Linked DNA regions of Homo sapiens. The protein of the gene in region 2 purifies or fractionates together with the protein of the main gene of each other region. This does not show direct contact. Each region holds a gene or a part of one and is shown on either strand. Other genes may lie near its edges.

Region 1 (7,845 bases), on a different chromosome or scaffold from region 2:
CTCTTGGATTCCTCTATTTGATATTGAAATAATTTCAAATTTACATGTCTTGTTTTAATCTCTGTCCCAAGAGACACTAGAAGGAGCAGAAGCAGAAGGGAGAAGTGGCTGAGACTGCAGTGATTACTGAAGGAGGGAGGCCGAAAGTGGAGACAGTTCTTTCTCAGGAAACAGAATAGCAAGTCACCTGCTGAGACTTGGGGGTTGGAATGCTGAAGTGGGGCTAAGGAGACAGATGCAGATTGGAAGGTAGCAAATGGCTGAGGACCAGGAGAGAGAGTGATTGTTCAAACATTGGCTGGAAGATTATCTTCCATCATCTGCAACCACCTGTAATTTTGTTCCCACTAACTCCCAAGGAGTCTCCAGACCAAGGCTCACATGGGGATGAATGAAGGCCTCTACTTCCTTTTTCATAAAGGGAGGCTTCATTTGCATATGTTCACCCAGTTTGTAGCATCATCCACAGTTTCCAATAGGCATGCATGATCTCATGTGGGCAGACAGTGTGTTTCTGTGGTTGACTAGAGGAAGCCAGGGAGACATTTGCTACTGAGCATGGCTAGTATCTGTGTGTGTGAGAGTGAGTGTGTGTGTGTGTGTGAGAGAAAGAGAGAGAGTGTGTGTGTATGAATTTCGTTTCAAAATCCATATGACACCTACAGATGTTATCATGTTGTCTATTGAGATAAAGAATTTTGGAGTTCTTTTAATCACAAATATGGAAAATGTTATAAAACCTTCCCAAAGGCAAATCTGAACACTAAGATGTGTTGTGATGCCAAAGACTCTGCTTTGAAGGAGAAAAGGAAACACCTTCACCTACCATCAGTGTTCTGCAAGACAGTGACATCTTTCACAAATGCAACGTCTCCAGCATTCTCAGCCAGGCACCTAAAATGTTCCAGAAAATATACACATAATTACAGAAGAGAAACTAGTGGGGCTTTCATAAATATTTGTAATATGCATTCCAAAAACTGAAATATGGAAGTAAACATCTAAAAGACAACTATTTCTAGGAATTTACTGTTTACAGCGGCAGATTGAACACAGGTGTACCTGCCCTCCTTTTAAAACCCTATATAAAAGACATTACAAAACCAAGAAATCTAAAGATATGCGACCCAGGAAACAGGCAATCTAACATGAAGTAAGACAAAGGAAAGCACCAAAATAATGGTCAACAGGACCCCCAGGACCACAGATGTGCAGGCGGCCTACACAGCAACCAGTCCAAACTGCAGCAGGAAGATGGATGCCTTCTGGAGCAGCACTTCCAAGTAAATGATGAAACTGTGATAGCACCCAGAGAGAGAGAGAGAGAGAGAGAGAGAGAGAGAGAGTGTGTGTGTGTGTGTGTGTGTGTGTGTGTGTGTGTGTGTGTGTGTGTGTGTGTATGCATGTTGTTAGGAGATTTACATTACTGGCAGACAGTTTGGGGATGAGATAGTGATGTGTTTTTTTAAGTGCAGAAAATTAAGCAAATAAGAAAAGACATTTATGAACTCCAGAGTAAACAAAAAGTTTGTACAATAAGGGAAATATAATATGAGAATAACGCTTACACAGTCATAAGTACTGAATATGACATTAGCGTGTTGGGTGCTGAAGAGAGTTGAAGTCTGTGGTTGTGTGGTGGAAAAGGTGCTGGGGGCAGTGTGAGAGGCTAGATCTTCTTCTATACTACAGAGTCAGCAGAAAGTTAAAAATTAAGAACCAGCATTATAAGGATGATAGAAATAAAGGGGTATGACACTGGTTTCAGCTTTTAATGATTTTGCTATAAATTTCCCCAATCTAGATTCTAGATATAATTTAAACAAAAGACAAGGGATTTTCTTCCAGTATAATTAGGAATATTAAAATGTGGGTGTTTCCAGTGAACTAATACCTTGCTGCAGGTCTGAAAAAAAAAAAAAGAGGAGCACATGCTTCTTTCGGGCTCTTATGAGACATGTGTTCAGCATTTCTGAGTAGAATCACATTTCCATTTGCAAATCCTTAGTCCCTTAAAGATATTTTTATACATTCACAAAACATTTTTTTTTGTTTTGGGTCTTTTTTTATGAGCCACTTATATAGCAAAAGCTACTTTTCTGTCATTCCATTACTGGAACAAGGCTGTTGAATTTATATTAAAAAGTTCAGACACCCTCAGACACATGACGCCATCTGGTCGTGAAATGTACTCTTGGCAAATGGAGGAAAAGGAACAGGGGAAGATCCTCTCTGCACCCTTCACACTGGTAAATAGTGCCCCTGAGAAGCAACACCCGGATGAATGGTGCTGTAAAACGTGGGGTGTGGTTACAAGTCACTAAGTGGTTATAACTTATGAATTCTGAAAACTTGTTTTTTGGCTTATTTTTCACTTCGTTACTGGAGAATAACACTGCAATTCTGCCATCTCTTTGCCATTTCTAAGGCCAAAGTCAGAGAAAAAGGGAAACCTAAGCCATAGTCATGACCTAGGTGAGAAGAAAAGGGGCGGCGATGGGAAAGAGAATTCTTCCCCATAAATGGAATTGTAGGAAGCACTTAGGATACCACACTCTACCCATTTGATTTTCAGGACGAGGCTATTGAGGCCTACTGCTGTTGATCTTGGCTCAAAGCCACAGGGAGAAGCACTGCGGAGCTGAGGTCAGACAGCCCTGGTGCCAGCCTCCACTCTCTGGGGCGGTGGGTGTGGTGGGGACAGCCCTCACTGGGGCCACCCATGAGCTGACCCACAGGATGACCCCCACTCTGCTGTGACAGGTCACATCTGGCTCCTTAGAACTGCAATGCTGACATGCTGAGGGATGAGGTAAGTCCCCATCCTGATGGAGCTCAGTCACAGACTCACCGGAAAGCCCCAGTGTAGCCGTAGTATCTCTCGTTGCTGTTGGGCACGCACTTATTCTCACCCTGCTCGTCGCCAATACACAGAGCACAGAGATTAGATCTCGGGTCAGACCCAGGGGCACAGCTTTGACTGAAATATTCATCTGGAGAGAAGGAACACGGGGAGTCAGCTCTTCAAACCTGAGTCCACACAAGCAACCTTTACCTAACAGCCGATGCAGGGTGGTTTCAGTTCATTAGACTTCCCAGGACAGCAATCTAGATAGAACACACTCACCATCACAAAGCAACATGTTGTCACCAACATAGGACCCACCAGAAAAGCTTCATTCAGACTGTAGGCACAGATGGACACCCAACTAAGGCTGGGGATGAGAGCTGTGGCTGCCTGGAGGGTCCCGTCATCACAGCCTTGAGCTGGGGACTCAGCTCATGACCGTGATGGCTGTGTGCAGCAGAGCCTGTGAGTTGCCTAGTCCAGGATCTGATTTTGTTTTTATCAGTAATGGAAACCCTGCTTTGTATCTGGGTGCTTGGCCCTTTGGTATAAAGACTAGACTTATCAGACTCCCTGGGGCTCATATGGCCATATGGGTAGCTATAGGCCAGTGAAATATCAGCAGGAGTGTTGGGCGCCAGCTTCTCAGAAACATCCTTGAAAGACAATTGGTACATGCCTTTTGCCCTTTCTTCTCCTTCTCTTTCTTCATCCTGCACATAGAATGCAGAAGCAGGGACTGGACTTAGAGATGCAATGTGGGCCATGAGGTGACCTTGAGCATGAAAGCCACACAAATGGCAGAGTAGCCAAATGATTAAAGCCCAGGTTCCAGACCCCATATTGTCTTCATACCAGCCCTAGGCAAACCACCTCTGGACTACATGACACAGAAATTAACTTCTGTCTTGTTTAAGCCTCTACTATTTCAGGAGTTTTCTGTTCCTTGCAGCTGAACCTGATCTGAATTCGTTCATTGTGTGATTTAACCCAAGAAAGAATAAACAAAGGTGACAAGAAAGCTCTGCCCCACTGAGCAAACGTCACCCATTATCAGACTCCCACTGCTGCTGGAAGAGCCACACTATGTGTCAACCTCAGGAAAAGCTGGGAGTTCCCATTCCATCCTGGCAGTTTCCCTACAGCTCAGAGGCTGCCATGGAGCTGGTGAGGAGCAGAGCCACGTGAAAGCTGCCTGCCCCGGCCAGGATCAAAAACCCATGCAGTGGAGCCCCTGCCCTAGGAGACGCCCATACAAGAAGGGAGTCACATTGAGGATGTGCTACACACCATGCCACGGGGCCCACAGCAGGCAGGGTGTGGCTGATGCTGACTAGGATGAGTGTGGGGTGTGGTGGGGAGAGAAAACTGCAGAAGCAGGTGGAGCCAGGCTCTTGAGGTCTTATTCAGGCTCCGTTGCAGTGTAGAGTAAGCGTCAGTTTTGCTTAGTAACAGGAGTCACCTTTCATGAGGCAGGCAGACATCTTTCCCCAAGCTGGGAAGCCAGAGTTTAAGAGGAATTTAGGTCTGGAGCTCCAAGAGGTAAAAAGCATTTGCACATCTTGGAACTTGCATTTATTCTTAGGGTGCAGCGAAATAGGCAGATATTCCAATCTTTAATCTTGGGGTGGGGTGAATGGGGCATGGGAAGTGCTGTGCAGGGAAACCCCCAGTGCACCCACGCCTCCAGGGGGCAGCCACAGGGAGAATTTCCTTATGCTGGAAGAGGCCTGCAGGCCACTATCAGCCTGCAAATCCCCTCCCCTCCCTTCCCTAAGGTTCCACAGCACAATATGCCTACCCTCCAGGGTGGCCCACCCACCGCACCTTTGGAACTCCTTACCAAATTTGCAGGAGCCCGTCTGGTTGAAGAGCAGGCCCATGGGGATATTCCAGCCTGCAGTCCTGTCCACGGCGGTGTGGCAGGACTTCTTGCCTTTCACAGAGTTCCAGGTAAGGCTAGTGTCTGATCTCCTAACCACCGCCACAGCAAGATATCCTGGCATAACAGATGACAGAAAAACAAGTCTTAACCTCCAGGAGGCCTGGCACATGGATTCCAGTGGAGCTGTCTACAGCCCAGGCCAAAACAGGCCAAGAAGCAACACCAGGCAATGATTCCCTCAAAGAACTGGCCTTTTTAGGTAGACCGAGAAAGCATAAGCTGCTGCCTTATGTTAAGGTGAGATTGATGAAATAAAACAGTAAGAAAAGCTGATTATTTTAGTGATTACAGGGGACTGTCTTCAACCAGCCACACAATGTCCCTGAGTTACAAACCAGCAATGCATCTCTCAGTGTAAGCTTCTACAGCAACAAACACTATAAACAACAAGAGAGACCCCAACAGTGCATAAATCACCAACCACAGTGTGCATCAGGCAAGAGCACCAACATCCAGCCAGCTAACGGCTGTGTGGGTACAGGGGCACATGTCCCCAGGGACTGCCCTGAGCTGAGTCTGAACCCACCCTGCACTGGTTGAACTCAACATGGTTGCCGTTGTCCTCCTGAGAGAATGCATCTGACAGACACCCACCAAGGGCAAGTCTTTTCTGAAACTGAGCAAGCACCAGCTCTGGTGGGCAGGAGGAGTGGTGCACAGAGCACTGGGACACGAGTCCCAGGTCACGAGGACCCGGGGTCAAGACCAGGATCTACCACAGTATTACCTATGGCTGTGAGTGAGATCCTGGGCACTTGGGGACTCTCGGTGCCACTGTTTCCTCATCCCCATGAGGTGGGGAAGTAGCACCCCCCATTCCATGACCATGACAAAATGAGGGACTATATGGATGTTCTTTGCCAAGTGTGAAGGTCAATATAAACATTAATTAGAACTATTCCTCTGTGAATTATTTGCACCCTTAAAATTATTGCTCCTAGAAGCCCTATAGCTTCTAGGGCTGCAATTCTTTCTGTTTTTTTTACAGTTCCTGCCACTTCCTCTTCCAGCAACAAGAACTTATCCTTGACCCTGAAAGTGGCTAATGCCAACTCACCTTCCACAGGTCTATCCACACAGTTAGGATCAGGGTCACTGCTTTGTTGGGATTCTGAAAGAATAAAGACAAGCCAGACATCATTATCCATTCAGATGTAGTGAGAAGCCACAAACTCTTAAATCTCAATGATGCAGAATCAAATCCAAAGAGACCGTCCCAGCAGTTCCATGCAGGAGAAATGCGTCTATATGTTCAACAAAAGACATGGCACAGAGATTCACAGCTGCATTATTCACCACAGCCACCAACTGGAAACTACTCAAATGCCCATCCACACTCAAATGATGAATAATCACAGTAGACTCACACAGCGACGAGACTGAACAGTCTACAACTACACACTTAGGTGGATGAAAAGCATAACGATGAGCAAGAGAAACCAGACATAAAAAAACACATGCTGTGTAATTCCTTTAACATGAAGTTTAAAACATAGGCAAACTTAGATCTGCGACCTTAGAAGCCAGGAGAGAGGCTTCCCTTGCAGGAGTAAGGGGGCGGGGGACAGGAGGACATAAGGGGCTTCTGAAACTTGCAGTGTTTGTTCTGGGCCCGAGAGCATGGACTGTACAGTGTGTGAAGTGCCATGAGTTGTACATTTATGTGCACTTTTCTGTTTGTATGTTATAATTCACTGAGATCTTCTGGAAAATTAAGAAGATAAAACCAACCTGTCCCTTGTTAATTCTCAACACAATAGGCTTTGTGGGTAACACGGCCCCTTTCATTTCTTCTTTCCCTGATTCTCCCTTTTGAATGTATCTGTTCATCATAATGTTTCACCTGCATTCACCGAATGGGATTACTCATAGCCCCACTCCCATGACCCAGAGGGAATATACCAGAGGATGCTAACTCCACTTACTGTAGTTCTCTGCCAGGACAGGCACCAAACCACATTTGCCTGCAGTGTACACATATCCTCCATCCAAACTCATGGCATCAGCTTCTCCTTTCTGCAAAGACAGAGCAGATCTCCAGCACCACAGTGAGGCTGCATCCCGTCCTGCCTGTCTATATAGCTCTCTGAGAGAATGGTTTTCTGTCAGGTGACCAGTGAAACAGCAGAAAGAGATGGACTATTCAAACTGAGCAGCCAGAGGAAACACCGTGTGCACCACTAATTCTCTCCCAGCCCTGCCTACTTTCTGGGCTGTCAATTCAACTGGAAAGACCAGGCACAGGTTGCACTAATCCTCTGTCCTCTGAGCAAAACCTTTTCTGTGTCCCTGGCACTTTGGGGACACCTTCCTGGAGCAGTCTCACTGACTGAGGACACAGATGGGAACAGCTGGCCTCATCTAATCTGAACTCATTAGCACTCCACTCCAAGCGCTACACAGAAGTTGTCCAACACATAAGCTGAAGTCGTCATATTGGCCCACCACCAGAATGAACAAGTCCAGGCTACAACACAGGATCATGGACTCATCAGTAGTATGAAACTTCCTCTTTGACCCAGTAATATTTTTACAACTATATTAAAAATAGAGAAGTGGACAAAGATTTCTACTCAAGAATGCTCACCACAGGGTTATTGATAATAGCAAAGTAAGGGACAAAGAGGAATGGGGGCATGACTAAACTGAGCCATATTCACATAAAAGATATCCTGGAAGCATGTTTAAAAAATGTTTTCGTCCGAGTGCTGTGGCTCACACCCGTAATCCCAGCACTTTGGGAGGCCGAAGCAGGAAGATTGCTTGAGCCCAGGAGTTCGAGACGAGCCTGGGCAACAAAGCGAGACCCTGTCGCTACAATAATAATAATAATAATTATGCAGGTGTGGTGGCGTATGCCTGTAGCCCCAGCTACTTGGGAAGCTGAGATGGGAGGATCACTTGAGCCCAAGAGTTCCAGGCTGCAGTGAGATGTGGTCGCACCACTGCACTCCAGCCTGGGTGACAGATCAAGAATCTGTCTCTTAAAAAAAAAAAAATTAATGCTTTCCAAGAGTAAATATTCATGTGGAAGAATGCCCATTATACGCTG
Region 2 (8,384 bases):
CCACCACAGCCGGCTAGTAGGTCGGACATTTTGAGGACAGAAAGTAGGTTCTGGTGAAGCAAGAGGGGGATAAAGGTGTTGATTATTTGACGATCTTTCCCAGCCTCATCCAAGTTTGCAGTGGTTTTTTTTTCCTCTTTTTTGAGACTGAGTCTCGCTCTACTGCCCAGGCTAGAGTGCAGTGGTGCGATCTCAGCTCACTGCAACCTCTGCCTCCTGCGTTCAAGTGATTCTCCTGCCTCAGCCTCCCGAGTAGCTGGAATTAGAGGCGCCTGCCACCACATCCAGCTAATTTTTGGATTTTTGGTAGACATGGGGTTTCACCATATTGGCCAGGCTGGTCTCAAACTCCTGACCTCAAGTGATTCACCCGCCTCAGCCTCCCGAAGTGTTGGGATTCCAGGCGTGAGCCACCGCGGCCGGCGTGCAGCGAGGCCTTTGGTCAGCATCTCACTTTGGGAGATTCCTCTTGCTTCTGCCCTTGGTTGCAGAGAGTGCCTGCCGTTCATTCTGCAGAACTCATGGTATGTGGAGTCACGGGTTCTTTGCATTACACTCCTCAAAATGATGTCCCCAGTACAAGCTTCAGTCATCAGAGAACCACTTGGTGGAAAAGAAAGCCAGCTGGGGGCTGGTGTGAGGGTGCACCTGCTCAGATGCTCAGATAACAAAGCCAGCCGGGGCGGGGCATGAAGCCAGCTGGGGGGTGGTGTGAACACACACCTGCTCAGATAATAAAGCCAGCCAGTGGGTGGTGTGAAGACACACATAATAAAACAAGGTGTGAAGACACACCTGCTCAGGTAATAAAGCCAGGTGGGGGGTGGTGTGAAGATGCACCTGCTCAGATGCCTCATGTCCATGTGCTCCATCACCAGCACGCTCCCGCCGCCTGGGGCATCCAGAACCTTGATGGGCTTGGGCACTTTCACCGTGTTTGTTTTCAGGATGGCAGTTAAACTTGCCATCTCACCTTCAAACATTCTTCTGGCCTGTCAGAAAAATACGAGAGGAAGTGGAAATACAGGGAGGCAAGGTTACTTCCGGAAGGTTCTGTAGATATGTTTTCCTCTAGCATTACAACTTCAAACCAAGACTATCCTGACTGAGGATTCCATACACATGGACAGTGTTTTCAAACACACTTGCCAACAGGGTAGGCTACAGGTTCAGAGGCTGTACTGGAAGAAGAGGGCTTGAGCTTTCCAGTGTTGGACTACACTTGTGTGCTGTGGTTGAATTGGGAGGTTCTCTGGAGAGAGGAAAATCGAAGGCACTAATATTCCACTAAGATCCGGCAACAGTGGGACTGTGAACATGGGTTACCTGTCAGTGTCCTCAGACGACACCTCAACTGCAGTCCTGTTCCACCTACAGGACACAGACTCACCCGACCTCTCAGGTGCAGGCGGCACCCTGGCTGCCTATGCCAGTGACCTGGGGTCACTTTTCACCTGAAGAGACCACCAAGTTCCATGCCACCTCCTGCCCAGCACTGGAAACCACCTCATCTTGAGATGCCGTTTCCATCCAACTCCCCGGGACCACAGCAACTCCTCCCTTGGGTCCCCCTGGCTCACCACACAGCAGTGATCCCTAGAGTAGAAGTCAGAGCCAGCGGCCTTTCCTTTCCTCCTGCTACACACACCACTGCCCTGCCTGCTCTCCCATCCTCATCTGGGGCTCCACCCTTACACACACAGACACATAACACACACACACAACATATACAGACACACAACACACACACAACACATACAGACACACAACACACACAACATACGACTTACAGACACACCATACACACACAACACACAGACACACACACACAACATACACAGCAGTGATCCCCGCAGAACAGGTCAGGGCCAGCGGCCTTTCTTTTTCTCCTGAGACACACACCACTGCCCTGCCCACTCTCCCATCCTCACCTGGGGCTCCACCCTTACACACACACAGACACACAATACATACACACAACATACAAACATTACAAACATACACACATACAACGTACACACACACAACATACACATAGACACACACACTCTCCTCGTGCTCCTGACTTCCAGCTGTCTTCATCCTTCTTTCAGTTCTTCAGAGTCCCCACCTCCTCAGCCTCAGAGCCCCACCACAGCTGCCATGTCACCGCTGCTAGGAACACTCTTTTTTTTTTGAGACGGAGTCTCATTCAGTCACCCAGCAGGCTGGAGTGCAGTGGCGCGATCTCGACTCACTGCAACCTCTGCCTCCTGGGTTCAAGCGATTCTTCTGCCTCAGCCTCCCGAGTAGCTGGGATTACAGGCGCCCGCCACCACGCCCAGCTAATTTTTGTATTTTTAATAGAGACGGGGGTTTCACCTTGTTGGCCAGGCTGGTCTCGAACTCCTGACTTCGCGCTCCACCCACCTCTGTCTCCCAAAGTGCTGGGATTACAGGCGTGAGCCACCGCGCCCGGCCCGAGAATGAGTCTAACAGAAGGACAGAGCATGCCAGGGTGTGGTGAGGCGCAGCAGCTGGCCTGGGGGCAGCACCTTCGCCCCGTTTCACAACGTACTGACCGAGGCTCACGGGGGATGGACACCTCCAGAGTCACTTAAGCTGAGGACTTAAGCAGCTTCCCCGGCTAGAACGACCCCACTTAACCAGCACCGCAGGGCAGGAACCCCGGGAGCAAGACTGCAGCAGCCAGTCCCGCCCCATTTCACGTAGCGCCCCCGAGAGAAAGTTCACGGAGAACAGGAGGTGTGGGGCGGCCGCGGTTCCTGCTCCGGACAGTTCCCCGCAGGTGCAAACTCCTCCGGACGCCCCGGACGCTTCCGCCGCCCCCGTTCACCGCTCGCCCCGCGCAAAGGGTTCCCCGCAAGGGGCGGCGGCGGCAGTCCCGGGAGAGCCACCCACGGCCTCCGGCGGGAGAAGCCCAGGCCGCGCCCCGCGCCGAGGCCCGCGACCCTCTCCGGAAAGAAACCGGTCCCCCGGCCCGCCCGACCCGCTGCCTGACCTCCGCCTTGGGGTTCACTTTCACGAACACTCGTCCTTGATCCGTGTCGTAGCTCCGGCCCTGGCTGATGCACCCGCCCCCCGAGTGGCCCGTGGCCCTGACAGAGCTGCAGCCCAGCTCGCGCCTCAGGAGCTCCTCCATGTTCCCGCCGCGGCCGCGGACCCGCCCCGGATCTGGCGGAGACTCGAGAGACGGCGGCCGAGCGGGCAAACATGAGTCCGCGCGAGGATTGGGCGGGGGGCGGGTGGGGGCGGGGCCCGGCCGCAGAGACAAGCGCTAGGATTGGGTGGCGGGAAGGGGCGGGCGTGGCCGCAGAGATGAGCGCTGGGATTGAGGGGCGGGAAGGGGAGGGGCCGGGAGGCAGGTAGGCGCGGGGGATTGGGTGGGGGTGAGATGACGTCAGGGGGCGGGGCCTGACCGACCCCGACCCAGACGGTTTGGGTTCAACTCTCCTGCACAAAATAAGTGGAAATGCTGATGGAAATAGTTAGAATATATTTTCTAAAGAGCTGACCCACTAGCAAGGGGCATCAGCCCAAGGTCTGGGTGCCGGGAGCCCAGAATGTTAAGATTGCTTTCGCCCGGGCGTTTGCTGAACCCGAGGAACAGAGCTCCTGATGTGGGGAGTGGCGGGCGCGCTCGGGGTGCACGTGCAACGGAGACACCGCCCCTAAACCTGGGGCCCTGAGGCTAACAGCTAACAGTGGCCCTGCCGTTACGGCCAGTGTCAGGTGCCAGCTGGGCTGGACCAGGAATTCCCAGAAACCTGGCAAGGCATGATTTGGGGTGGGTCGTGCTGAGGGCCACACCATCCGCTTCCCCGCTTCTGAGGCCTTCCGACCTGGGCTGAGCCCGGCTACCCGAGTCCCGGGGTCTCCGGCTCACAGACTTCTCGGCCTCCGTAATTGCAAACGCCAGCTCCCCCAGTCCATCTCCTGTCCTGGATCTACGTCTATATCCTACTGGATCCGTCTCTCTGGAGAACCCTAATACAGCTGTCAACACAAGGATGAACTAACTACAAGAAGGCCTGAATAGGAACTCTCCCAGGGGACGAAGAGGTTTCAGCCTTCAGCAAAGGATGGTTCATAGAAACCGTTCGCATAGTCGGCCCTCCACGGACTGCAACCCTAGTTAATATTACCTACAGTAAACAAAAAATTCAAGTATAGATTTTAGTCTAAAGCAAATAGGAAATGTCGCTTCCCTGGACGTTGGGAGAAGCAAACACGAATCCTCTCCTGAGGCCGGAAGCGGTGGCTCACGCCTGTAATCCCAGCACTTTGGGAGGCTGAGGCGGGCGGATCATTTTATAACTATCTATTAAATGGTACATATGTGTGTGTTCACGCACTTTTCTGTGTGTATACCGCATTTCATAATTTTAAAAAGCAAAAAAGATTAGCGGGGCGTGGTGGCGGGCGCTTGTAATCCCAGATACTCGGGAGGCTGAGGCAGGAGAATCGCTTGAACCCGGGAGGCGGAGGTTGCAGTGAGCTGAGATCCCGCCATTGCACTCCAGCCTGGGTGACAAGAGCAAAACTCCGTCTCAAAAAAAAAAAAGGCAAAAAAGAACAGATGAAAATCCGCAGATGGTAATAGATAAATCAAGGAACACATTAGAGAAGAGTGAGAGAATTAAAAGGTGCTCCAAAGGCGGTGGAGTGGGTGAACCACTCCCTGTATGCTCCTCCCCTCGGGCCAGGGCCTGCGGATGTCCCTGTTTTAATCTGTGGCCTTGACCGTTTGGACATTTTAACTCCATGCCATGAACATGAAGATTTTCATCAGAACTATGCCACCGTTAAGTTTTTGTTGAGAAACTTTTTTTTTTTTTTTTTTGAGATGGAGTCTTGCTCTGTCGCCCAGGCGGGAGTGCAGTGGTGCAATCTCAGCTCACTGCAACCTCTGCCTCCCAGGTTCAAGCGATTCTCCTGCCTTAGCCTCCTGAGTAGCTGGGATTACAGGCGCACACCACCATGACTGGCTAATTTTTGTGTTTTTGTGGAGATGGGGTTTTGCCATGTTGGCCAGGCTGGTCTCAAACTCCTGACCTCAGGCGATCTGCCTGCCTTGGCCTCCCAAAGTGCTGGGATTACAGGCATGAGCCACTGTGCCCGGCCGAGAAAGCATTTTTAGGAGTGACTTTTGGGCCGGGTGCGGTGGCTCACGCCTGAAATCCCAGCACTTTGGGAGGCCGAGGCAGGTGGGTCACAAGGTCAGGAGATCGAGACCGTCTTGGCTTATTCGGTGAAATCCTGTTTCTACTAAAAACACACACACACAAAAAAATTAGCCACACGTGGTGGCAGGCGCCTGTAGTCCCAGCTACTCGGGAGGCTGAGGCAGGAGAATGGCGTGAACCCGGGAGGCGGAGCTTGCAGTGAGCCGAGATCGCACCACTGCTCTCCATTGCACTCCAGCCTGGCAACAGAGCGAGACTCCGTCTCAAAAAAAAAAAAAAAAAAAAAAAGAGTGACTTTTGGCCAGGCACTGTGGCTCACGCCTGTAATCCCAGCTACTCAGGAGGCTGAGGCGGGAGAATCGCTTGAACCCGGGAGGCGGAGGTTGCAGTGAGCCGAGATCGCACCACTGCACTCCAGCCTGGGTAATAGAGTGTGAGACTCCATCTCAAAAAAAAAAGCAAAAAAGAAAAAAAGTGACTTTCATCTAGCTAATTTAATTCCTAACCAATTTTCTTTTTTGTCCATTCAAATGGTTTATAAATGACTTTTTCCATTTTCATTTTCAATTGAATGATATTATCTTCATCATATCAGTTTAAGTTTTCAGTCCATTTTTCCTGTCTACATGGAATTGCCGACTGCACAAAGAACACATGAGGGCTCTCTCAAGGCCATCATTTCCGCGGAGTCCCATTTCCTGACTCAAATGACAAGCTCTCAACTTTCTACTCAAGATCATTGAAACATCTGTGTTGATTATTTGTAACCGGGATATGCTTTATTTATTAGATAAGAGACTAACCGTTGGTGCGTTGATGAGTTCATCCTTGAGATGTTGTGTGTTGTTCTGTGGCTGAGGATGTGGCCGTGGTGTTGCTGGCCCCACACATCTGCGCGTTTCTGGGTCTTGCACACGCACCCACACTGCAGGCCTTCACTCCCGCGTCCTGCTTTGCTCTGTCCTGCTCTTGCTGTCTTTCTCAGACTTTCCGTTCCAGCAGCGTTTTCCTCCTCTGCAAATGAGATTCTCTTCCTGGTGTCCCAAGGTCAACATCCCCAGTAATTCACTCCTCCTGAGGATGGCTCCAACTCGCTTCTCTGCCCACACCTGCCTTGTGCTTGGATGCATGTGCACACAGAGTCCCTGCCTGACTGTCCCCCTTGTGGCAAGCCCCTGGGTCACTCTGCATGTGGCACCCACAGATGGCGGCAGCAGCCTGTCTGGAGCAGTCACTACATAGACATGCGACACCCACAGATGGCGGCGGCCAGTCTGGAGCAGTCTCTGTATAGACATGCGACGCCCACAGATGGCGGCGGCCAGTCCGGAGCAGTCTCTGCGTGGGCACGCGACGCCCACAGATGGCGGCGGCCCGTCTGGAGCAGTCACTGCGTGGGCATGCGACGCCCACAGATGGCGGCGGCCTGTCTGGAGCAGTCTCTGCATGGGCATGCGACGCCCACAGATGGCGGCGGCCTGTCTGCAGCAGTCTCTGCATAGATATGTGACACGCACAGATGGCGGCGGCCTGTCTGGAGCAGTCACTGTCATGACACCAGCAGCAGTGGGGAGGTGGCGCCGGGGCTGCGTGCTCCACGGAGCTGGTGGGAGCCAGGAACAGGCAGAAGCCACCCACCTTCCAAGCCAGCAGGGAGAGAGCCTTGTGCTCCCCAGGTTCAGTGGCAGCTGCCCAGCCATGGTTCCAGATCTGCGCATTCCTTTGCTCTTGGGGGTGGGAGTGGGCAGGAACCCCATCCTCCTGGGTGCAGGTGCAGCTTCCCAACCATGGCTGAGAAGGGGCTGAGGGCAGCTCCTTGGCACAATCAGCCTGGACGCCATAGATGACGGCAGGAGGCAGAGAGGCTCTTGGGTGGAAAGGGGCAGGTCCACAGTGAAGGCCCACCCTGAAGCCAGGGATGGCCTGAAGCCTGGGAGCTGGGCTGAGGGACCAGAATGGGAACTTATAGTGCTTTGTCCAGGCCCACCCATGGCCGCCCATGAACCAGTCAGCATGCACTTCCTCCCCTCTGAAGCCTATGAAAACCCCAGACTCAGCCAGATTTGAGGAGATGACAGGATGACCTGCCTGCAGAGAGGAGCTACCCACTCCAGGGTCCCCCCTCCGCTGAGAGCTGAGCAGATGCTGGAACTACCAGCTGCAGAGAGGAGCTACCTGCTCCAGGCTCCCCTCTCTGCTGAGAGCTGAGCAGACATTGGGACTGCCAGCTGCAGAGAGGAACTACCCATTCCAGGGTCTCCTCTCTTCTGAGAGCTGAACGCTAGCTGGGATGCCCTGCCTGCGGGGAGGAGCTACCCACTGCGAGTCTCCTCTGAGCTGTTCTGTTGCTCAGTAAATTTCCTGCTGGCCTTGCTCACCCTCTACTTGTGCCCATACCTCATTCTTCCTGGATGCAAGACAAGAACTCGTGACCTGCCAAATGGCAGGGCTAAAAGAGCTGTCACACAAACAGGGCTGAAACACGTCCCTTGCTAACAATGTTGTGAGTGACAAGAAGGAGAGAAGAGAGAGGGAGAGAAGAGCTGTGTCCCTTCGGGAAGCCCAGACCTAAGACCTCCCCAGCCAGGCCTGCGACACCGTCTCTGAGGCTCTGCGGCTCCCGGCGTCTCCAAGTTTCTGGGTGCCCCTGCATTCCCCCGTGCCAGCCATGGAACCTGCTCATGGTGCACCTGGTCCAGCTGCAGCCTCGCAGGGAGCCAGCGCCCCCAGTGGCACCCGAAATGGCCCGCTCTACCATAGCCGGTGTGCCTGGCTGTGCGCAGTGGCCAGACCTCACGATTTCTCCCTCACACACCCCTCGCCACTCCATGCCTGGCAGGTGTGAGATTCATACCAGTAGCATGAGCTGAGCACAGCCTGTCAGGCCAAGTGCACTGAATGAGCCCAGTGGGCCTGAGTAAAAACTTGGGCAAAGGTGCGACTGGCCACAGAGGTTTCCAGCTGGCGAAGCAACACCCCAAGGATCCCGTGACATTGCCACCGAGCCTGGTGCCCCCACCCAGAGCCCGGCGCCCCCACGACACCGCCGCAGAGCCTGGTGCACTCAGAAAGTGTCTGCCAGCCAGGTGCAGTGGCTTGTGCCTGTAATCCCAGCAGTTTGGGAGGCCGAGGTGGGCAGATCACCTGAGGTCAGGAGTTCGAGACCAGCCTGGCCAACATGGCGAAACCCTGTCTCTA

What was found. Proteins that work in one complex are often made in the same cells at the same time.
Region 1: the proteins of FN3KRP (region 2) and LTF purify together in Homo sapiens (affinity purification with mass spectrometry; 3 studies listed by BioGRID and IntAct, with this or other methods). This does not show direct contact.

Annotation. Positions count from the first base shown.
Region 1 is NC_000003.12:46,440,590-46,448,434, forward strand, and holds part of LTF (lactotransferrin isoform 1 preproprotein), read right to left. Parts: intron 6,810-7,845; coding exon 6,719-6,809; intron 5,905-6,718; coding exon 5,851-5,904; intron 4,848-5,850; coding exon 4,692-4,847; intron 2,994-4,691; coding exon 2,852-2,993; intron 895-2,851; coding exon 827-894; intron 1-826. UniProt on the Homo sapiens protein: Transferrins are iron binding transport proteins which can bind two Fe(3+) ions in association with the binding of an anion, usually bicarbonate. Lactoferricin binds to the bacterial surface and is crucial for the bactericidal functions.
Region 2 is NC_000017.11:82,711,514-82,719,897, reverse strand, and holds the start of FN3KRP (ketosamine-3-kinase), read right to left. Parts: upstream 3,193-8,384; 5' UTR 3,143-3,192; coding exon 3,002-3,142; intron 1,455-3,001; exon of another isoform or gene 1,327-1,454; intron 993-1,326; coding exon 841-992; intron 1-840.